Homo sapiens: one gene and its partners. The protein of the gene in region 1 purifies or fractionates together with the protein of each later gene. This does not show direct contact. Each region holds a gene or a part of one and is shown on either strand. Other genes may lie near its edges. The genes, in order: CSNK1G2, GINS1 and NISCH.

Region 1 (7,939 bases):
AGTGGATCCCAAGCAGGATAAAAACAGAAAGCCTCATCTAAGGAGAGCATAGTCAATATTTTAAATCAAAGATAAAAACCTTAAAAACAGAAAAAACGACACATTCTAGAACATTCTAGACAACGGAACAACATTCAACAACCGGAGTCCACAACAGGCTCAACATCAAAGCCACCAACAGTCCTGAGTGCTGGGGACGTGGAGTGCTCGAGGAGCCCAGTGCTATTCAGTTCTATTTGGGCAGTTAGTTCTATTCAGAAGGGCCCAAATCCAGAAACAGCCAAGCGTCCCTGCGCTGGGAGCAGATGAAGAAGGGCTGGTGTGTCCTCCGATGGACGGCCTCCCGGCACCCCTGAGAAACCACGATGTGCGGCTGCCCGCGAAGCACACAGCGCCCAAAATGCCAGGCTGAAGAGAGCGCAAACCGCAACTCAGTAAAAGCTGGCGTCACCAGGCCGGGCGCAGTGGCTCACGCCTGTAATCCCAGCACTTTGGGAGGCCGAGGTGGGTGGATCACAAGGTCAGGAGATCAAGACCATCCTGGCTAACACAGTGAAACCCCATCTCTACTAAAAATACAAAATATTAGCCGGGTGTGGTGGCGGGCGCCTGTAGTCCCAGCTACTCGGGAGGCTGAGGCAGGAGAATGGCGTGAACCCGGGACGCGGAGCTTGCAGTGAGCCGAGATTGCGCCACTGCACTCCAGCCTGGGTGACCGAGCGAGACTCCGTCTCAAAAAAAAAAAAAAAAAAAAAGCTGGCATCACCCACGTCACTCTCATCTGCCTACAGGGACCTGCACTATTCAGCAGCCTGCAACCGCCGCCCAAGGACAGGACCCACATAGCCATCTGGGTTCCCAAAAGCCATACCCCGCAGGCTGCAGGTCACGGGGCTGTGCCAGGCATGTGTGTGCAGATGAGCCTGTGTGCCTGTGTATGCGTGGTTGTGGCTGTGTGCGCCTGTGTGCGTGTGCTTTAGTGTGCACATGTGCATTTGTGGGCACGTGTGTACATGTCTGCATGTGTCTGCACGTGTGTCTGAGCGTGCACACACACACGGGGTTGGGAGGCCACAGCTCCTGTTGGGAAAAGCTCAGTCTCTTGGCTGAGAAACGGAGCCCGGGCCTCCTGAGCCACAGGCCGTCGGACCGGCAGTGAGGCTTCGTGGCCCAAGCCCAGCCTCTGCGCAGAGGTGGAATCCCAGCAGCCTCCCCAAGGGCTGGGGTGGGATCTGGTTCGGGTGGGGTCTCAAACCCCGGCCTCCTGGGGCCCTGGGTGCAACCAATGGGAACACAGAAACAGCCAACAGTGACCCCAACAGCTGCCCTCGCCTGGGAGAAGCTGCTTGACTCATAGGACACACACTTCTGCCGCATAACTGCCTGCTGAACCCTTCTGCCCACGAGTGGCAACTACCATTCATCCTCATTTAACAGGTGGGTAAAGTGAGGCAGGAGGTGGGAAGCAGGGCCACAAAACATGCCTGGGGTCCAGGCCGCCACAGCCCATGCTCCTGCGCCCCTGGGCGGCCGCTCTTGAAGATGCAGCCACATCATGACCACTGCGTGGGCCTGTTTCCCTCATCTGACAACCTCATCGGGCTGAGTGCCTGCCATGGGTGCCATGGGCACCGCCTGCCATGGGTGCCCACGTGAGGCCGATCCACTGCCGTGGCCTCTCGGACCTGCCCATCCTGCGCTCTTTCCCAGGGACCCTGATTCCCACCACGACAGACACTGACTGGGGGTGCACCTGGGTTCCCCGGACAACCCCAGCAACAGACGCCAAATGCCCTCCCGCAGGAGCTCCGGCAGCACCAGCAATAAATTTAACCACATTTCCGGGGATGATTCAGCTCCCTGGCCCAGCTAATCACAGACTGGGAACGGCCCCAAAGGTGCTCAGAGCTCCCCCAGGCCTGATGGTCATCTTCAGGCACCCCCACCCCAGGGAAGGCACCCCTGGCCAATGAGAGGCTCAGTCCTCGGCCCTGCTCCTCACGCCTGCCCGGGCAATCAGACCCCGACCCGGGAGAGGTTGGTGTGAGCAGAAGGGACGGAGCCAGGTGGGCCAGGTGCGGCCTTTTACATGGTGAAGCTGGGAGTGGCACACAGCAGTATCATCACCACAGAACAGTCACTCCAGCCACCTGACGCCAGCTCCGGGCTGGCCAAGACCTCCCACGAGCTGAGTGCCGGGCAGGCACCTGCCGTTAAAGCCGGGGCTTCGCCCAGCGTGCACATGGGCCATGAAAGTCATTCACAACTTAACATCGGGCTCCTTGCGGCGTGGCCTGGCCTGCTCTGGGCCACCTGCCTCCCAACAGAACTGTTTCCCGAAAAGGTGACAGGGCCAGAAACCCACTCTCCCCACAGAACCTCCTCGAAGGGAAGTGGCACTCGCACCACGACGGACTGATGATTCAACGCACCTGCCAGTGACATGGGGCGGCCCCGCCAGAGGCTCCAGTGACCCCGGGCGGCCCCACCAGAGGCTCCGGTGACTCGGGGCGGCCCTGCCAGCAGCCTCCCGACCCCACCTACCACCGAGCAGGGCCTCACCTAGGCGGAGCTCCCCGAAGTTGCCGCAGCCGATCTTCTTGCCGACGCGGAAGTTGGGGCCCACCATCAGGACCCCCGAGCTGGTCCCCGAGCTCCGGATGCCGTGGCTGCTCCGGCCCCCGCCGGCCTTGGACATTCTCCGGCCCTCCTCCGTCTCCCCTTTCCCTCCTTTCTTGTCAAAATCCATAAGTTTGTGATACCCTGGCCTCTCCACGGTGACTCTGCTGCCGTGCAAATCCCAAGTCTCTGGAAACCTGAGGTCTTGGCTCCTCTGTGGCTAGAACATCACTGCGGCCGGTGGGCGGGCGTGGGCCCGTGGCTCCCAGCTACTGAGACGCAGGCGTTCGGGCCGGCCAGGCCGCGCTGCTCTTCTCAGTGGCCTCGGGGTCGCTCTCGGGGGCAGGAGACATTCTGCTGACACATCCCACCGCCTCAAAGCTCACGGCTCACAGCTGCAGAGAAACAGAGGCACAGGTGAGCACCGGCAAGGCCCCCGCGGGGCCACTGAGGACACGGGGCGGAGGCCACAGAGGACACAGCCAGGAGACTGCTGGGCTGGAAGGAGCTCTGAAGGCCGGGGCATGATGAGCACCGTCCCTGCCCGGAACCCAGCTGGGAAGCACACATCACATGACATCAGAGGCCAGAGATCTCGGCGTGGCTGCCTGGGGACGAACAGGGTAGGGCTCAGGGGGCTTTCTGTAAAGCGGGATGGGTGGGTGGGTGGGTGGGTGGCACAGGTGGGAGAGTGTACTGCCAGGAGAGCATGACTGCCAATCCCGGGTAGAAGCCCTGAGGATCCTGAAGCCAGGGGAGCAGTCGCACCCCCAGACACAGAGGGGCCACACAACAGTCCCCGTATCCAGGCCCAGGGCCGCTCTGGGAAAGAGGGAGGGAGGCAGATGACAGCAGGCAGGCCCGAGGCAGGGACACAGGAGCCACCGAGCTGCCCCTGCCCATGGCGACTGGTTGATGCTGAGAGCGGGGAGAGTGGGCCGGAGGGCAGGAGGCCCCGGAGAGCCGGGCACTGATGCAGGAGCCCCCAGGGCCTGACCCAGGCTCGGGTTCTTCTCCAGCAGCCACTGGTGGAGCGGGGCAGGCTGGACGCCACTCGAGGCTGTGATGATGCCAGGCTGGGTCGGACCCATCCCCTTCGGTGCAGAGCGGAGCTGAGGAGGGAATGGCGGGGCTTGAGGGACCAGCGGAGCCAACAGCCACCTAAGCAAGGCTGGGCACGGGGCAGGCAGCAAACTTCTACCCCAGGGGAAAAGACAGAAGCCTCTGGTCCTGAGAAGGAACACGCAGTCCCTGCTCCCGGGATGGTGGGACCCCAGCCCACAGCCCCTCGCTGAGTCTGCACCACCTTAAATGCTCCCGAGCCCAGAGCTGAGGGCCCCAGAGCCTGTTGCCACCCACAGAGAAACGCCGTGTCTGGACAGGGGCTCATGGCTGAGGGGACTCTGTGCAGGTCGCTCTCTGGAGCGAGGGGGCCAGCCAGCCCCGGCTGGCATGGAGCCCAGTCTCAGCGCAGGCCCCGACGGGAGGCAGGACGGTCCCCAGCAAGGAGCCTCGGGACAGCCTGGGGAGGAGGGAGGAGGGAGGAGCCCCACCTGCAGAACTGAAGGGTGGTCAGGGGCAGCCTGGGGAGGAGGGAGGAGCCCCCACCTGCAGAACTGAAGGGTGGTCGGGGGCAGCCTGGGGAGGAGGGAGGAGCCCCACCTGCAGAACTGAAGGGTGGTCTGGGGCAGCCTGGGGAGGAGGGAGGAGGGAGGAGCCCCACCTGCAGAACTGAAGGGTGGTCAGGGACAGCCTGGGGAGGAGCCCCACCTGCAGAACTGAAGGGTGGTCGGGGGCAGCCTGGGGAGGAGGGAGGAGGGAGGAGCCCCACCTGCAGAACTGAAGGGTGGTGGGGGCAGCCTGGGGAGGAGGGAGGAGCCCCCACCTGCAGAACTGAAGGGTGGTCGGGGGCAGCCTGGGGAGGAGGGAGGAGCCCCACCTGCAGAACTGAAGGGTGGTCGGGGGCAGCCTGGGGAGAAGGGAGGAGGGAGGAGCCCCACCTGCAGAACTGAAGGGTGGTCGGGGGCAGCCTGGGGAGAAGGGAGGAGGGAGGAGCCCCACCTGCAGAACTGAAGGGTGGTCGGGGGCAGCCTGGGGAGGAGGGAGGAAGGAGGAGCCCCACCTGCAGAACTGAAGGGTGGTCGGGGGCAGCCTGGGGAGGAGGGAGGAAGGAGGAGCCCCACCTGCAGAACTGAAGGGTGGTGGGGGCAGCCTGGGGAGGAGGGAGGAGCCCCACCTGCAGAACTGAAGGGTGGCAGCTGTGGTGTTAACTGGACGCTCGGGTGGTGCAACCCCAGGGACGCGGCTGTCACCTCGTCGCCCTCAAGCCAGGTACCCGCCCAGGAGGCCAAGAACCCTGCACCGGGAGCCACCGCAGCCACCTGCCTGTCTGCACAGATCCTGCCGGGTCCTCCCTGACCCAGGCCCCAGCCACCCCTGGCCCCATTCTAGGGCTCCAGACAGACAGAAGCCCCACCCTCACTGAAGAAGGGGGACCACAGTTTGCTGCTGTGCCCCAGATGTGCAGGGGAAGAGGTTTCCTGCCAACCGGCAGGACGTAGGGGCCGCGGGTGAAGAGGGGCCGTGGGTGCACAGCCATCGCCGAAAATGTTAGGACAGGAACTCCCAGCTGAGTAAGCCACATCAGAAACGAAGGCACCGGCGTCACAAGCACTGCCCCCCTGGATGTGGCCCCTGCGTTCCGGTGCCAGAAACACCCTGTGGGGATCACAGGCCTTGGGTTCCGCACGGCAACAGCCGCTCGAATGTTCTGGTTTCCCAGTGCACACACAAGTTACGTTCACAGTATACCGTGGTCTAGGAAGTGTGCAGTAGCGTTGTGTCTAATCAAAGGACACACTTTAATTAAGCGGGGCGTGGTGTGCAAGCCTGTGGTCCCAGCTACTCGGGAGACTGAGGCGGGAGGATCGTTTGAGCCCAGGAGGCGGAGGCTGCAGTGAGCTATGATCGCACCACTGCACTCCAGCCTGGGGGATACAGCAAGACCCCATCTTAAATAAATAATAAAGAAATAAAAATACTTTACTGCTAAGCAATGGTAATGATCATGGGAACCGGGAGTGGCCCTAATCTCCCCGGAGAAGGGTCTTGCCTCAATGTGGACGGCGGCTGACTCGTTGGGGCGGTGGCTGCTGGAGGCTGGGGCAACTTCTTAAACTATGACCACAAAAAAGTTGGCCACAGCGATGGACTCTTCCTTTCATGAAAGATTTCTCTGTGGGGCGTGATGCTGTCTGATAGCATTGATTACCCACAGCAGAACGTCTTTCAGAACTGCAGTCGGTCCTCTCAACCCGGCCGCGGCTTCATCAACCGAGGTTCCGGGCTGTTCCAAGTTCTTTGTCCTCATTACCCCCAGGTTCACAGAATCTTCACTGGGACTAGAGCGCAACTGAAGCAACTCCCCTGCTCACCCTTCAGAGGCAACTCCTCACGTGTTAAAGTTTTCTCGCGAGACAGCGACAATGCAGTCACATCTCCAAGTCCTTCTCATTCTAGTTCTCTTGCTGCTTCTAAAACCTCTACAGTCCCTCCTCCACTGAAGTCCTGAACCCTCACAGTGATCTTTCAGGCCTGGGACCAACTTCTTCCAAACTTCCGCTCATCCTGACATGTTACCTCCTCCCATGGATCACGCGTGTCCTTCACAGCCTCTAGAACGGCAAAGCCTTTCCGGGGGTTTCAATTTACCCAATTTCCCCAGCTCCATCAGAGGAATTGCTCTCCACGGCACCTACAGGCACCTAGAGCCTTACAAATGTATTTCTCAATAATGAGAGTCATGGGCGGCTGCGGTGGCTCCTGCCTGTAACCCCGACACTTTGGGAGGCTGACGCAGGCAGACTGCTTGAGGCCGGGAGTTCAAGACCAGCCTGGGCAACACAGGGAGACCCTATCTTTACAAAAATAAAAACAAAATTAGCCAGTCATGGCGGTGCGCACCTGTGGTCCTAGCTACTTAGGAGACTGAGGTGAGAGGATCGCTTGAGCCTGGGAGGTGGAGGCTAAAGTGAGCTGTGATTCTGCTTCTCCACTGCAGCCTGGGAGACACAGTGAGACCGTGCCTCAAAAACACTAAGACTTGGCCAGGCACAGTGGCTCAGGCCTGTAGTCCCAGCACTTTGGGAGGCTGAGGCGGGCAGACTGCTTTGAGCTCAGGAGTTCAAGACCAGCCTGAGGAACATGGTGAAACCCCCTATGAAAAAATATAAAAATTAGCTGGGCATGGTGGCACGCACCTGTAGCCCCAGCTACTCAGGAGGCTGAGGAAAGACAATTGCTTCAACCCGGGAGGTGGAGGATGCAGTGAGCCAAGATCGTGCTACTGCACTCCAGCCTGGGTGACAGTGGGACACCTTGTCATGCATAAATAAATGAATGAATGACATGTCAAGGAGTCATCTTGATTTCCGAGTCATTCATTCATTCATTGATCCACAGGCTACAGGCTGGATGTTGTGCTAGCAGGGATGGAAACAATGATCTTTTTTTTTTTTTTGGAAACGGAGTCTCGCTCTGTCGCCCAGGCTGGAGTGCAGTGGCACAATCTCGGCTCACTGCAACCTCCGCCTCCTGGGTTCATGCCATTCTCCTGCCTCAGCCTCCTGAGTAGCTGGGACTAAAGGCGCCCGCCACCACGGCCGGTTAATTTTTTGTATTTTTAGTAGAGACGCGGTTTCACTGTGGTCTCGATCTCCTGACCTCGTGATCTGCCCGCCTTGGCCTCCCGAAGTGCTGGGATCACAGGTGTGAGCCACCGCGCCCGGCCGGAAACTGATCGTGTACGTCTCCACTAGGGATCTTGGGTGACCAGGTGCGTTGTCAGTGAGCAGTCATATTTTGAAAGAAATCTTTTTGGCCAGGCGCGGTGGCTCACACCTGTAATCCCAGCAGTTTGGGAGGCCGAGGCAGGCGGATCATGAAGTCAGGAGATCGAGACCATCCTGGCTAATACGCTGAAACCCCGTTTCTACTAAAATTACAAAAACATTAGCTGGGCATGGTCGTGGGCTCCTGTAGTCCCAGCTACTCGGGAAGCTGAGGCAGGAGAATGGGGTGAACCCGGGAGGGGGAGCTTGCAGTGAACCGAGATGGCACCACTGCACTCCAGCCTGGGTGACGAGCGAGAATCAGTCTCAAAAAAAAAAACAAAAAAACAAAAACTTTTTTCTGAACAATAGGTCTCAAAAGTGGGCTTCAAATATTCCATAAGCCAGGTGTTAAACAGATGTGCTGTCACCCAGGCTCTGTTGTTCTATTTATAGAGCACAGAGTAGATTTAGCATAATTCTCGTGGGCC
Region 2 (7,939 bases), on another chromosome or scaffold:
GTTCTCAGAGAGCTTACATTTCAGCATACTTAATAATAAACCTTAGGAATCTTTGACCAGAAACAGAACCATGAAAAAGACGCCATTTCAGAATTATATCTTCAAACTCTGCATTGATGCTATTTCTGAAAACTATAAAACATTGTTAAGAAAACCCAAATGTCCACCAGCTGATGAATGGATATGTGCCCATATGATGGAACATTATTTAACCATAAGTAACAATGAAGTTCTGAAACGTATTGCCATTACCACATGAAAGACAGAAGGCCACATATTGCATGATTCTACTCATATGAAAAACCTGTAATAGGTAAATCTATAGAGACAGAAAGTAGATTCGGGATTTCCAGGAGCTGGGAGGAGGGAAGAAAATATAGAGTAACTATAAAGGGGACAGGGCTTCTTTGTAGGGTGATGAAAATATTCTCAAATAAGAATGTGGTATTGGATGCACAACAACTCTGAATATACTAAAAACCACTGCACTGTACAATTTAAGATGGTAAACTTCACAGTGTATGAATCATATCTCAGTAAATCTGCTATTTTAAAAAAAAAGTTGAAAACAATGAAAGACCTAAATAATACCATATTCACAGATTGGATGATTCAATATTGTAATAACGTCAACAATCTATAGATTCAATTCAATCTCAATCAAAATCTTAACTTTCTTTAAAATGGAACCTGACAAACTGAGTCTAAAATTTACATGGAAGTGCAAAGGGCTAATAGTTGAAATGCTCTCAAAAAAGAACAAGATGGGAACTTGCTCCAACTATACTATATAGTTACAGTAATTACAACAGTGGAATTGGTATAAGAACAGATAGACTAGCATAACAGAAGAAAAAGTCCTCCCATTCAGAATCCACAGGAATACTGACACTCAATGTATGACAAAGGTGGCACCATGCACACAGTGATGGGAGAGGCAGATCTGTTCAATACATGGTGCTGGGTCATCTCAATATCTATATTCAAAATGAAGCATGCCTCCTGTAGTATACACAAAACTTAATCCCAATACTGTAGATCTCTTTGTAAAAGGTAAAATATAGCTCCTAAAAGATTACATAGAAAAAAGGCCGGGCACGGTGGCTCACGCCTGTAATCCCAGAACTTTGAGAGGCCGAGGCGGGTGGATCATGAGGTCAGGAGATTGAGACCATCCTGGCTAACATGGTGAAACCCCGTCTCTACTAAAAATACAAAAAAATTAGCCAGGCGTGGTGGCGGGCGCCAGTAGTCCCAGCTACTCGGGAGGCTGAGGAAGAAGAATGGCATGAACCCGGGAGGTAGAGCTTGCAGTGAGCTGAGATCATGCCACTGCACTCCAGCCTGGGGGCAACAGAGAGACTCCGTCTCGGAAAAAAAAAAAAAAAAAGAGAGAAGAAAAATATCTTGGGAGGCTGAGGTAGGAGAATGGCTTGAACCCGGGAGGTGGAGCTTGCAGTGAGCCAAGATTGAGCCACTGCACTCCAGCCTGGGCGACAGAGTGAGATGCCGTCTCAAAAAAAAAAAAAAAAAAAAAAAAAAAAAAAAAAGAAAAGAAAAATATCTTAATAACCTTAATAACCTCTGGGTAGGCCAGGCACGGTGGCTCACTCCTGTAATCCCAGCTTTGGGAGACCAAGGTGGGCATATCTCTTGAGGCCAGGAGTTCAAGACCAGCCTGGTGAACATGGTGAAACCCCACCTCCACTAATAATACAAAAATTAGCCGGGCATGGTGGCACACACCTGTAGTCCCAGCTACTCCAGAGGCTGAAGCAGGAGGATTGCTTGAACCAGGGAGGCGGAGGTTGCAGTGAGCCGAGCTATGCCACTGCACTCCAGCCTGTGCGACAGAGTCAAACTGTCTCTCAAAAAAAACAAAAAAAAAACCAGAAATACTATTCAGCATTAAAAAGGAATAAGCTCGGCCAGGTGTGGTGGCTCACACCTGTAATCCCAGCACTTTGGGAGGCTGGGGCAGGTGGACCACCTGAGGTCGGGAGTTCAAGACCAGCCTGACCAACATGGAGAAACCCATCTCTGCTAAAAATACAAAAAATTAGCCAGGCGTGGTGGTGCATGCCTGTAATCCCAGATAGCTGGGAGGCTGAGGCAAGAGAATCGCTTGAACCCGGGAGGCGGGGGTTGCGGTCAGCCAAGATCACGCCACAGCACTCCAGCCTGGGCAACAAGAGCAAAAAACTCCGTCTAAACAAAATAAAAAACAAGGAATGAGCTCTTGCTAATATATCAACAGATTAGAATCTCAAAAATATTACATTTAGTGAAAGTCATCAATCATTAAAGGATACTGCATGAATCTATATAAAGTTCAAAAAATGGGCAACACTAAATTATAGTGTTTAGAAATGCATGCTTAGGTGGTAAATGGCAAGTTTTTTTGTTGCTGTTTTAAGACAGGGTCTCACTGTCACCCAGGCTGGAGTGCAGTGGCGCAATCTCAGCTTACTACAACCTCTACCTCCAAAGCTCAAGTGATCCTCCCACCTCAGCCTTCTGAGTAGCTGGGACCACAGGCGCATGCCACCACACTTAGCTAAGTTTTTTTTTGTTTTTTTTTTTCTTTTTTTGGTAGAGATAGGGTTTCACCCTGTTGCTCAGGCTGGTCTCAAACTCGTGAGCTCAGGCAATCCATCCACCTTGGCCTCTCAAAGTGCTGGGGTTGCGGGTGTGAGCCACTGCATCCAGAGCAATAAGATTTTTAAAAATAAGGAAGTGATTAGTCTGCACAAAAGTCAGGAGGGTAGTGATCACTGGGAGGAGGGACACAAAGGTTCCGGAGCAATGTTCTTTCTTGAACAGGGTGATGGATACATGGGAATTCCTCAGTGACACATCATTGGGCTGTACATCTTCGTTTTCTGCACCTTTTCAGATGTGTTTGCATGTGCCTGTTTTTATGTTAGATTTCACAATGCAAATGGTTAAATTAAGTGATTTTAAAAGATTTAAAAGGTATGTATGCCAAGGTGGTAAAAACTGCATTGTTTTTTATAATATAAAGGATAAAAAATGATATTTTGTATTGATAAGTATGAAGAAAAGTTCTCTGAGAGAGATCTTGCCAAATGAGTCAAACATGGGTGTTTCCACTGTGGTCTTTTCTACTTTGTCTCCACTGAGAAGAGTGTAACAGACCCCAAAGAGAAGATGAAGTGGAAGAAAAATCAGAAGCTGTTTTGACAATGAGGGTGTTACCCTCATTCAGTCTCATTCACAGATAAAAGGGAAATGTAGAATAAGCACGTTACTTCCACAAAAGAACATACTGATATAGTCACAAATTTTTTAGTTTTCCTTATGGAAAAATATTAATAGGAAAGAAAAAAATACCTATTTTCACTATCTCTCATGTTAGTGGCTTAAAGATTCTAAACAGAAACTTAGGAAATCAAAAAACAAAAGATGTTACTATTTTAAAAACATAAAAGATGTTACTACTTTGAAAACAAAAGATGTTATTATTTTAAAAACATAAAGGATGTTACTACTTTGAAAACAAAAGATGTTACTACTTTGAAATCAGATAATAAGATTTTTACTTATCATCAGTGTGCTTTCATATTCTTTCAATGGTGTTTTCTCTAAACATTAACACATGATCATCTGTTTCATGTTAGTAACCTTATTTTAGCTCTGCTTTTACTTTTATTGCTAGCCTGAGTCAACAATATTGAAATCATCACTCCCAGTAATAAAGTGCTTACTATATACCAGGAATTTGCTAAAATTTTAATATGCATTATTTTCTCTTTTTCATTGCCCCATGATGTAACTACTATTATTATTTTCTTTTTATTCATGAAGGACTGAAGCTTTGAGAGATTAGATAATTTACCAAAGGGCTCAGAGTTAACAAGGCAGGGATCTGAATTTAGGTGGCAGACTCAAGCCCATGTGCTTCAGTCACCCATTGAAGCACTATCCTTGGGTAATACAGATACCTATGATGACATTCAGACCTCATAGGCTCCTATAAGCTGTCAGGGATACCTGGAAATATTCTTTGTTACTGGTCCAAAATGGCTGATGCAGTTGCCACGATGCAATTGCTCAAGCAGAGATGTCTGTGGTCTACTACAGAGTTTATCTGTATTAATCTCTTCTCATCCTTCAGTGTTTCCAAAACATCACTACTAAGAGAACGAGACCATGTATATTCCTTTTATTCTTTTTCTTTTTTTCTTTTTTTTTTTTTTTGAGACAGGGTCTCACTCTCTCTCCCAGACCAGAGTGCAGTGGTGCGATCTCAGCTCATCGCAACCTCCACCTCCCAGGCTCAAGCAATTGTCCTGCCCTCAGCCTCCCTGACCAGCTGGGATTACAGGTGCACACCACCACACCCAGCTAATCTTTGTATTTTTAGTAGAAACAGGGTTTCACCATGTTGGCCAGGCTGGTATATTCCTTTTTATAGATGAGGTCACTGGGGTAGAAGGAAGTCATTTGCCAGTTTTGCAGTAATTCACAAACTCTTCCAAGAAACTATCTCAGGTTTCACTATTCTCAAACAACTTAATCTCTAGACCCATTAATATTATTTTATATAAGGCCAGGCACTGTGGCTCACACTTGTAATCCCAGCACTTTGGGAGGCTGAGGTGGGCAGATCATCAGGTCAGGAGCTCAGGACCAGCCTGGCCAATACAGTGAAACCCCGTCTCTACTAAAAATACAAAAATTAGCTGGGTGTAGTGGTGGGCACCTGTAATCCCAGTTACTCGGGATGCTGAGGCAGGAGAATCGCTTGAACCCGGGAGGCAGAGGTTTCAGTGAGCCAAGATCGTGCCACTGCACTCCAGCTGGAGCAACAGAGCGAGACTCCATCTCAAAAAAATATATATATATTTTATTTGCTGTTAACATTGTTATATTTCATTAAAATAGAAACTGACTTTGGGAACTCAGTAATCACAGAAAAGTGCCACCCTTACAGAAACAATGCCCAATATGAAATCTAATTGATGTGCTTGAATAAATGCAGCTTGTAATCATTTACTAAATTGTAAGAAACATATTAATCGCCAGGCGCTGTGGCTCACACCTGGAATCCCAGCACTTTGGGAGGCCAAGAGGGGCAGATCACAAGGTCAGGAGTTCGAGACCAGCCTAGCCAACATAGTGAAACCCTGTCTCTACTAAAATACAAAAATTAGCCAGGCATGGAGGCACGCACCTGTAATCACAGCTACTTGGCAGGCTGAGGCAGGAGAATTGCTTGAAGCCAGGAGGCGGAAGTTGCAGTGAGCAGAGAATGCACCACTGTACTCCAGCCTGGGCAACAGAGCGAGATTCCATCTCAAAAAATACACAAAAAAATTAATCTAAAATATTGTATGAGAAAAATCATTAAAGCTACTGTCGTTAGAGAAACATAATGTTCTGTTCATCTCACCATAATACACAGTAAGTACCCCAAAGTTCAATTAATATAAGTAGATTTGAACACAAAGAGCATAAAGTGAGGTACTAACATGTTACCAATTTCGTAGTCACTGGTAAATCTGAGGTAGAGATTACTCATTTATTTATGCAGAAAATGAACAGAATGAAAATGAAGCTATGACAACAAATAGATCACTTTCAAAAATGTGCAGAATCTAATGGCAAACACATTGAATATTTGTTTTTTTTTTTTCTTTAAGTTCTGGGATACATGTGCTGAACGTGCAGGTTTGTTACATAGGTATACATGTGCCATGGTGGTTTGCTGCACTGAATATTTTCTTTCTTAAGCTCTGTGCTATGCAACTGTAATGTAGTAACTGTTAACATTTATTGAGTGCCATCCTATGCTGTGCTCCACATGGACCACCTGAAGTAACCCTGTGATAGGCCTTGTAATAACACTGTTGTAGAATAAAGAATTTGGTGGGCCTCTCTCCCTCATTCCTGGGAGGTAGCTTCTAAATTCTTGTACTTTCTCAAGTAATAGGAGTGTCTTGTTATTTATGATGTGCCCTGAGAGTATGTGCTACTCAGGTGACTCGTGGTGAACCCCTACATAGTCTGTGCTAACAAGATGACTCAGAGTTGGGACTGGCTACCCCAGAAAGACCAACCATGTGATTAAAGTATTGGGCCTTTGGCCCTCCTGATGTCAGTCTGACCTCCAGGGAGGGGAAGAGGGATGAAGATTGAACTCAATCACAGGGCCAGCAATTTAATCAGTCATGTCTATGTAATGAAGCCCCAATAAACACTCTGGACATCAAAGCTTGTGTGAGCTTCCTTAGTTGACAATAACTGCAGGTAGTTAGTGTCAAAAGTCATTGCAACCTGTAATAGATAGGTAATATGATCTTCATCCTGTAACAAGGAAATTTAGGCACAGCAACAGGTCAAGTGACTTGCTCAATATTAGACAGCAGAGATTTGAACCTAAGCCCACCTGACTCCAATCCTATGTCCTTAAATAATGGGCTAGTTCTTTGCCTCAGTGACTAGGCAAATATGAATTTTGATTAGGAAAGTATATATACACATGTAAACATTTCATGGAATATCACCAAATAATAATGCCAGTTTTTTAATCCCACTGATGGATCACTAATAAGTAACATCATGGGACTCTATTTTGTTAAGTAATAATAGAATTTTCCACATATGATTTAGAATTACTCCTCACCACATAGTTCCCCTCACATTATATACTAAATACCAGCCAAAAATTGGGGAAAAACAGACATTAAACACAAAAAGAGGAATACCAATAAACACTATTATAGAACAATGCCAGAACTTTAGCATTTTCAAAATTTATAAACTTGAACAATGCTAACTCACTTCTTCAGCAGCCATGTGAAATCGTAATGCATTTGGCAAGACGCTACCATATTCCCATCTGAGTGCTCTGATCCGAAGCAAGCGGTCATACCTAGGACATCAAGAAGGTATTGGGTGGCATAAGAATAAACGGGGGATCACGTGTGGACTTCATTTGGCCCCTGATGCAAACACACCAGCTCTAAACAGACATCTTAGGGAAAACAAGAAGAACATGAACACAGTCTGAGAGTCGACCTGAAGGCACTGTCCACTCCTCCACGTGTGACAGCAGCACAGTAGTCCTGGGAAAAAGGTCCCTAAGGTCCTTATTTCTTTCTTTCCCCCGCCTTTTTTTGTTTGAGACAGAGTTTTGCTCTTGTCACCCAGCCTGGAGTGCAATGGCACGATCTCCGTTCACTACAACCTCTGGCTCCCAGATTCAAGCAATTCTCCTGCCTCAGCCTCCCAAGTAGCTGAGATTAGGCACCCGCTACCACTCCCAGCTAATTTTTGTATTTTTAGTAGAGACAGGGTTTCACCATGTTGGCCAGGCTGGTCTCGAACTCCTGATCCCAGATGATCCACCCGCCTTGGCCTCCAAAATTGCTGGGATTATAGGCATGAGCCACTGTGCCTGGCCAAAGGTCCTTATTTCTAAGACAAAGAAAAAATAGTAAGAACACTACCGTATTCAGTAGTGAAAGACCGTGATGCACTTAAATAGTGTGGCACCAACAAGTGAAACACGATGAAAAAAATATGGCAAAATAATAAAAATTGTTAAAACCATATGATAGCTCCACTGGGGTTCATTATAGTATTATTCTCCCTACTTTTAAAAGTGTTGTGATTTTTCATAATAAAAAATTAAAAAAATGAAAACACAGAGGAAAAATTTAGAATGCTTACAAAGAGAGAGAGATCTAAGATTTCATGTTACCCATTTGAGATGGTCAACTGGGAAGCCACACAGAAAATCCTGCCACCCCAAGCAAAAACTGAGAAGCTTACAGGTATGCTACAGTGCAGCGTCGATTTCTTAACAGAGAACAGTGTCGAAATTTGATAGTTGGTATCAAATCACTTCGTCCACCTGACTTTGCTTCATTCCTGATAGGAGCATTTAAAAAGAAAAAAAATATGTACTTTT
Region 3 (7,939 bases), on another chromosome or scaffold:
AAATGCTAGCCTTCAGCTCTAGCATGAGCCACTCTGCAAGGAGCATATTTGAATTTCAGTTTTAATATTTCCAGTCCTAGCTTGGGTATGAGATGCTCAGACAGTTTCCTGGGAAGGGGACAGGTTTGAACTTGTTTGATCTAGCGATAGCTATTCCAAAGCCTTACTTTAATATCTGGCTGTGATTCCATCTCTTTTTTTTGCTTTTGGAGATGCTGTCTTTCTCTGGGTCATTTGCAGCATAACTGTTTTAAAGACACACCGCTGCCCTGATTGGTTTTTACTCTGGCTTGGAAAAGATGGCAATTTTAGGGGCAAAAGGTGTTACTTTTCTGAATGTCTCTAAAGTCTCCAGATGGAATTCCTTGTCTAGAATTGTATTGGTATTTCTAATGCTAATTGGATTTAAAGAGGCCAAATCCCAGGTGCACTAGTTTGGTCACTGATTTTGGTACTACTGCAGGGAGGGGCTGTGCAAGTGCTGACAAGCGCCTGCCCTCAAGCTTCTTGCCTTGGTCTTACATAGGCACAGAGCCTCTTAGTCTGTGGTTGATGTGCTTATGTTTTTTTACAGCTCGTTGCAGAGAGAAAGATTGATAAAAATCTGCTTCCGCCCAAAAAGATAATTGGGAAAAACTCAAGAAGCTTGGTGGAGAAGAGGGAGAAGGATCTGGAGGTCTACCTCCAGAAGCTCCTGGCTGCCTTCCCTGGCGTGACCCCCAGAGTACTGGCCCACTTCTTGCATTTTCACTTCTATGTAAGTTCCTCATCGGGTTTTCACCTGTGCCTGCAAACCCACAACTGCCAAACTTGAGGCAGCAAACCAGGGGAGACCTCAGCTTTGAGGTGGGCTGGGGTTTGACCCTAGGTTAGAAGATGGAGGAACGTCACCCTGGTTAGGAATGCATTGTGGCCAGAAGCATGTTAGTTGACAGATTTGCCGTAAATTAGACTAAATGTGGCCACAGAGATGCTTTCCTCCACCACAAGGCATTTTGTTTAGCAAAAATGGCCTGTGGGTGTTTAAGCTAGGTTTCCATCCAGATGGATGAGGCTGGATTAGAAATAGCTGACACCTGGGATAGACTATTGTTGAGTTGTTGGTGCATAGCCCAAAACTAATTAAGGGATTAGTCTGTGATGGTGGAATATCACCATCTTGGGGCGTGTCATCAGGGTCCGCGCTGCCAGGGTGCTAAGGTTGAGGGTGGACACCTTCCTGTGATGGGAGAGTGTGTCATAGAACAGCTCTGTACTCCGTCCTTGAAAGAGGAACAACTTTCATAGGTTGCCGGTGACAGAATGCGTTGTCAGACTTTAAGAAGGGCACTTAGGCAGTGTGAAACCACAATATTTGTGCTTTTGAGACGGAGTCTTGCTCTGTCACCTAGGCTGGAGTGCAGTGGTGCGATCTCGGCTCACTACAACCTCCGCCTCTTGGGTTCAAGCAATTCTCCTGCCTCAGCCTCCCGAGTAGCTGGGACTACAGACTTGCACCACCACACCCAGCTAATTTTTGTATTTTTAGTAGAGATGGGGTTTCACCATGTTGGCCAGACTGGTCTGGAACTCCTGACCTCAAGTGATCTGCCTGCCTCAGCCTCCCAAAGTGCTGGGATTACAGGCGTGTGCCACCGCACCTGGCCAAAACCACAATATTAAATAGCAGTTCTATTTATGAGAATTTCTTCTAAGGAAAAATCAGGCAGCCGCAAAAAGGATATATGAACAAAGGTAGTCATTCCAGGATTGTAACAAAATAGTAAGGACAACCCTAAAGTCTAGTAGAAGAGGTTAAAAAAAAAAAATCAGGCCAGGTGCAGTGGCTCATGCCTGTAATCCCAGCACTTTGAGAGGCTGAGGTGGGCAGATCACTTGAGGTCAGGAGTTCAAGACCATCCTGGCTAACATGGTGAAACCCTGTCTCTACTAAGAATACAAAAATTAGCTGGGTATGGTGGCAGATGCCTGTAATCCCAGCTATTTGGGAGGCTGAGGCAGGAGAATCGCTTGAACCCAAGAAGCAGAGGTTGCAGTAAGTCGAGATCATGTCACTGCACTCCAGCCTGGGCAACAGAGTGAGAGTAAGACTTCATCTCAAAAAAAAAAAAAAAAAAAAAAAAAATCAAAGGGTACAGCCAGGCTGAGCACAGTGGCTCATGCCTGTGATCCCAGCTCTTTGGGAAAATAAAACAAAAAAGAAATCTGCAGCTCCACCATCATTATCCCAGCAGCACACCAGTCTTCCCAGCAGACACTGTCTCAAAAAAAATGCAACTTTCTTAAGCAGTATCCAACTGTATGGCTGTACTATTTTTTTTTTTTTTTTTTTGAGACAGGGTCTCACTCCATTGCTCAGGCTGGAGGACAGTGGCCTGATCATGGGTCACTGCAACCTCAAACTCCTGGGCTCAAGGGATCTTCCTGCCTCAACTTCCCAAGTAGCTGGAACTACAGGTGCATGCCACCACACCCAGCTAATTTTAAAAATTTTTTTGTAGAGATGGGGTCTTGCAGTATTGCTCAGGTTGGCCTCAAACTCGAACTCAAGCCATCCTCCCACCTCTGCCTCTCAAAGTGCTTAGACTGTAGGTGTGAGCCACTGCACCTGGCTGACTATGGTCTCATTTTTACAAAAAACAAGTTGATATGGACATATTTGTCTAGGAAAATTCTAGAAGGTTTACGTATACCAAAATGCTAAGAGTAGTTTTCTCTGAGTGATAGATTTTCAGATAATTTATATTTACTTGTTTTCCTTTTATATGATGAAGACAGGGAAGAATCCACTCCCTTTTCAGGCTCACCTTGAAGTAACCTGTGGATTATGGTCCTAAAAGCCCAGCTGTATTTAAAATACAACTTTCTTGGCCAGGTGCAGTGGCTCACGCCTGTAATCCCAGCACTTTGGGAAGGCCCAGACAGGCAGATCACTTGAGGCCAGGAGTTCGAGACCAGCCTGGCCAACATAGCGAAACCCTGTCGCTACTAAAAATACAAAAATTAGCTGCGCGTGGTGACTCATGCCTGTAGTCCCAGCTACTCAGGAGAGAGGCATGAGAGTCGCTTGAACCTGGGAAGGGGAGGTTGCAGTGAGCCGAGGTTATGCCACTGCACTTCAGCATGGGCCACAGAGACTCTGTCTCAAAGAAAAAAACAAAAACAGAAGAAACAACTTCCTTAAACTCTTTTCAGAGTAAGACAGTTGAACCTTTCTTGGATCACTAAAGAGCCTAGAAATTTGGTGGCGAGTGCTAACCTGGGGCCACTGAGCTTGGCAGGGACAGGTGGAAAAGTAGATAGCATTCACAGATGGGACCTGTGTATATGCTTTGGATTTTATTTAGCATATACCAGCAAGTATAGGGTTAGCAACATACCCTTTCGTAAACATATTTTTATACTTTCTTATGTGAGAAAAAATTTGCATTCCTTATGCAAGTCTTTCAGATAAACTTTACTGGTTAGTATTTTAAGAAATAATGTACTTTAAAGGCCGGGCGCAGTGGCTCACGCCTGTAATCCCAGCACTTTGGGAGGCCGAGGCGGGTGGATCACGAGGTCAGGAGATCGAGACCATCCTGGCTAACACGGTGAAACCCCGTCTCTACTAAAAATACAAAAAATTAGCCAGGCATGGTGGTGGGCTCCTGTAGTCCTAGCTACTCGGGAGGCTGAGGCAGGAGAATGGCGTGAACCCGGGAGGCAGAGCTTGCAGTGAGCCAAGATCGTGTCACTGCACTCTAGCCTGGGCGACAGAGCAAGACTCCGTCACAAAAAAAAAAAAAAAAGAAATATTGTATTTTAAGAAAGCTTTGGTTAGCCATTTAGGGATGAAACCTGACATGCAGTCCTTTGACGGTATTAATTCCTTGCTTGAGACCTATGCCTTTGAGGAGAGGAGGTCTCGCTGGCTGCCTCACGTGTGCCTGGCTCTGAGGGTGGAAAGGCCTGGACTGCTCTTTTGAAACTGGTTTGCCTGAGATGTGCCTGGGGCCGGCTACATCTGGTTCTGGTTTGAGGCAGGCTCCGCTACTTGTAGAAGTTTTGACATATTTGGAATTAGTATTATCAAACAGGTCCCTAGGTTATATAAATCCTAGGATTTAAAAAAGCAATTGAACCCATCGTTGGATTAAACCCACAGTTGATCAGCCATAGCACTGTTGACATTTTGGACTGGATAATTTGTTTCTGTAAGGAGCTGTCCCATGCATTGTTTAGCAGCACCCTGGCTTCTACCCACTGGATGCCAGTAGCACTTCCCCACCCAGCTATGGCAACTAAAGATGTCTCCAGACATTGCCAAATGTCCCACTGGGGGGCAAAATTGCCCCCCACTTGAAAACCACTGGATTAGATCTTCATTTGGGGCCTAAAGATTTGTCAGCCTTTTCTCCAGGCTGGGAGCTCTCTGGGGAATGTTTCTCTTAACTTTTATACTGTCTGTATCCTCTCTGAAATTGTTCCACATGTGTTCTGCCTCTTGTGTTGCTGACATTGGATAGGGTGGACCCAGGGAACCCTATTTGGCTATGGTGTGAATTTTTTTATTTTTATTTTTTGAGACGGAGTTTCGTTCTTACTGGCCAGGCTGGAGTGCAGTGGTACGATCTCGGCTCACTGCAACCTCCACCTCCCAGGTTCAAGTGATTCTCCTGCCTCAGCCTCCCGAGTAGCTGGGATTACAGATGGCCCGCCACCACACCCAGCTAATTTTTTGTATTTTTAGTAGAGACGGGGTTTCACTATGTTGGTGAGGCTGGTCTCAAACGCTTGACCTCGTGATCCACCTGCCTCAGCCTCCCAAAGTGCTGGGATTACAGGCATGAGCCACCACGCCTGGCCATGGTGTGGATTTTTAAAAATTGAGATATAATTTACATACCATAAAATTAACTTTTTAATGTGTACAATTCAGTAGTTTTTAGTATATTCACAAAGTTGAGCGACCATCACCACTATCTAATTCCAGAACATTTCATCAGCCCAAAAAGGAACCTGTACCTGTTAGCAGGAGCTTCCCATCCCTCTGTCCCCCAGCCCCTGGCAGTCACTAATCTACTTTCTGTCCTTATGGATTTGCCTGTTCTGGACATTTCATATAAATAGAATCATACAGTGTGTGGCCTTTTGTGACTGGCTTCTTTCATTTAGCCTTATCTTTTCAAGGTCCGTTCATATTGTAGCATGAATCCATTGGTCCTTTTATGACGGAGTAATAGTGTATTATTTGGATATGCCACATTATGTTTATTTATTAGCAGTTGATGGATGTTAGGTTTGTTTCCATTTTTGGCCATTGCAAATGATGCTGCTATGAGCATTTGTATGTTAATTTTTGTGTGAACTTATGTTTTCATTTTTGTTGGATATATAGCCAAAAGTGGAACCTGAGTTATATGGTAACTATGTTTGACTTTTTGAGAAACTAACAAATTGTTCTCCACAGTTGTTGCACCATTTGACGTTTCCATCGGCAGTGTATAGGTTCTAATTTCCCCACATTCTTGCTTAACACTTCTTGTCCATTTTTTTTTAAATCTTAGTTGTTCTGGTGGGTGTGAAGTGGTATCTCATTGTGGTTTTAATTTACATTTCCCTAATGACTAATGTTATTGAACCTCTTTTTTTTTTTTTTTTTTTTTTTTTCTGAGACAGAGTCTCGCTCTGTCGCACAGGCTGGGGTGCAGGCATGTGATCCCGGCTCACTGCAACCTCTGTCTCCTGGGTTCAAGCGATTCTCGTGCCTCAGCCTCCCGAGTAGCTGGGACTACAGGCGTGCACCACCACGCCTGGCTAATTTTTGTATTTTTTTCATTAGAGACGGGGTTTCACCATGTCGGCCAGGATGGTCTCGAACTTCTGGCCTCAAGTGATTCGCCCACCTTGGCCTCCCAAAGTGCTGAGATTACAGGTGTGAGCCACCACACCTGGCCTGAGCCTCTTTTCATATGATATTTGGCCATTTGTGTATTTTCTTTGGAGAAAAGTATCCAATTCTTTGTCTTTTTAAAAATCAGATTGGGCCGGGCGCGGGTGGCTCATGCCTGTAATCCCAGCACTTTGGAAGGCTGAGGTGGGCGGATCACTTGAGGCCTGGAGTTCGAGACCAGCCTGGCCAACATGGAGAAACCCTGTCTCTACTAAAAATACAGAAATTAGCCGGGCATGGTGGTGTGTGCCTGTAATCTCAGCTCCTCGGGAGGCTGACGCACAAGAATGGCTTAAATCTGAGAGGCGAAGATTGCAATGAGTGAGACCACACCACTGCACTCCAGCCTGGGTGACAGAGTAAGACTGTCTAAAAAAACAAAAAAAACAAAAAAAACAGATTATCTTTGTTGTTGAGTTGTAAGAGTTCTTTATATATTCTGGCTACTAGACTTTTAGAAACATGCAAATACTTTTTCACATTCTGTGAGTTGTCTTTTTTTTTTTTTTTTTTTTTTTTTGAGACAGATTCTTGCTCTGTTGCCCAAGCTGGAGTATAGTGGCGTGATCTCGACTCACTGCAACCTCCACCCCTGGGGTTCAAGCGATTCTCGTGCCTCGGCCTCCCAAGTAGCTGGGACTACAGGCGTACGCAACCACGTCTGGCTGATTTTTGTATTTTTAGTAGAGATGGGGTTTTACCATGTTGGCCAGGCTGGTCTTGAACTCCTGACCTTAGGTGATACACCTGTCTCAGCCTCCCAAAGTGCCGGCATTACAGCCTGAGCCACCACATCCGGCCTGCCCAGCTAATTTTTCTATTTTTAGTAGAGACAGGGTTTTACTATGTTGGCCAGGCTGGTCTCGAACTCCTGACCTTAGGTGATCCACCTGCCTCAGCCTCCCAAATTGATGGGATAACAGGCGTAAGCCACCATGCCCGGCCATCTTTTCATTTTCTTGATGGTCTTCATTGAAGCACAAAAGATTTAGATTTTGATTAAGTTCAATTTATCAATTTCTTTGGTCACTTGTGTTTTGGTATCATACATGAGAAACCATTGCCCAATCCAAGGTCACAAAGATTTATAACAATATATTCCTGTATGGATTTTGTTTGTTTTTTGAGACAGGGTCTTGCTCTATTGCCTAGGCTGGAGTGCAGTGGCACCATCTCGGCTCACTGCAGCCTCAACCTCCCAGGCTCAAGCACTCCTCCCACCTCAACCCCCCAAGTAGCTGGGACTACAGGCATATGCCACCGTACTTGGCTAATTTTTGTACTTTTTGTGGAGATGGGGTTTCTCCATGTTGCCCAGGCTGGTCTCGAACTCCTGGGCTCAAGTGATCCACCCACCTCGGCCTCCCAAAGCGCTCGGTTTACAGGCGTGAGCCACCACACCCAGCCTGCAGTGTGGATTTTAATAACAAGGAAAGAAAGCACTACTTGTTTACCAGCCCACTTTAGGTGGGAGCGCAGGGGTTGCCGCCTGTATGAGTGAGGGGCACACTGTGGCACTGGCCTGTTGCTATGCTGCTCTTCAGATTGCTGTGTCCTGACCCTCCTGGACGCGTGGTGACAGGCCTCATCCCAGAACCCCTGGAACAGAGGTTTCCAAACTCAGTGAAATGGAATCCCATCCGGAATTCTAGCACACCATGTGGGCCGGGACCTCCAACTGTGGTGGACTTGGAGGCAGGCAGAGGCGAGTTTATCTCCCACCCCTACTTCCCAACGGTTTAGTCCAAGTCAGTCATTTAACCTGCCTGTGAGCTGGAGGCTGGTGAGCTGGGGTCCTTGTGAGGCCTGCAAGAGACTGTGCAGTGAAGGTCAATGGCTTAGAAGAGTGTTGGGCCTGAGGTTAGGGCTGACCATGTGCTAGCCATTACTAGGTGGTTCGGGAAAGAAAAGGAATTCATTTCTCTTGAAAGGTGTTTATATTGTTGTCTTCTTTTAAAGTTAGTTGGCTAGAACAAAGATCCTTTTCAAAATTTGGAATCAGGG

What was found.
Region 2: the proteins of CSNK1G2 (region 1) and GINS1 purify together in Homo sapiens (affinity purification with mass spectrometry; 2 studies listed by BioGRID and IntAct, with this or other methods). This does not show direct contact.
Region 3: the proteins of CSNK1G2 (region 1) and NISCH purify together in Homo sapiens (co-immunoprecipitation; 2 studies listed by BioGRID and IntAct, with this or other methods). This does not show direct contact.

Annotation. Positions count from the first base shown.
Region 1 is NC_000019.10:1,964,583-1,972,521, reverse strand, and holds part of CSNK1G2 (casein kinase I), read right to left. Parts: intron 3,732-7,939; exon of another isoform or gene 3,617-3,731; intron 3,015-3,616; 5' UTR 2,750-3,014; coding exon 2,563-2,749; intron 1-2,562. UniProt on the Homo sapiens protein: Serine/threonine-protein kinase. Casein kinases are operationally defined by their preferential utilization of acidic proteins such as caseins as substrates. It can phosphorylate a large number of proteins. Participates in Wnt signaling.
Region 2 is NC_000020.11:25,417,064-25,425,002, reverse strand, and holds part of GINS1 (DNA replication complex GINS protein PSF1), read right to left. Parts: intron 7,900-7,939; coding exon 7,801-7,899; intron 6,899-7,800; coding exon 6,808-6,898; intron 5,320-6,807; coding exon of another isoform or gene 5,198-5,319; intron 4,158-5,197; coding exon of another isoform or gene 4,031-4,157; exon of another isoform or gene 4,015-4,030; intron 1-4,014. UniProt on the Homo sapiens protein: Required for correct functioning of the GINS complex, a complex that plays an essential role in the initiation of DNA replication, and progression of DNA replication forks.
Region 3 is NC_000003.12:52,458,088-52,466,026, forward strand, and holds part of NISCH (nischarin), read left to right. Parts: intron 1-574; coding exon 575-757; intron 758-7,939. UniProt on the Homo sapiens protein: Acts either as the functional imidazoline-1 receptor (I1R) candidate or as a membrane-associated mediator of the I1R signaling.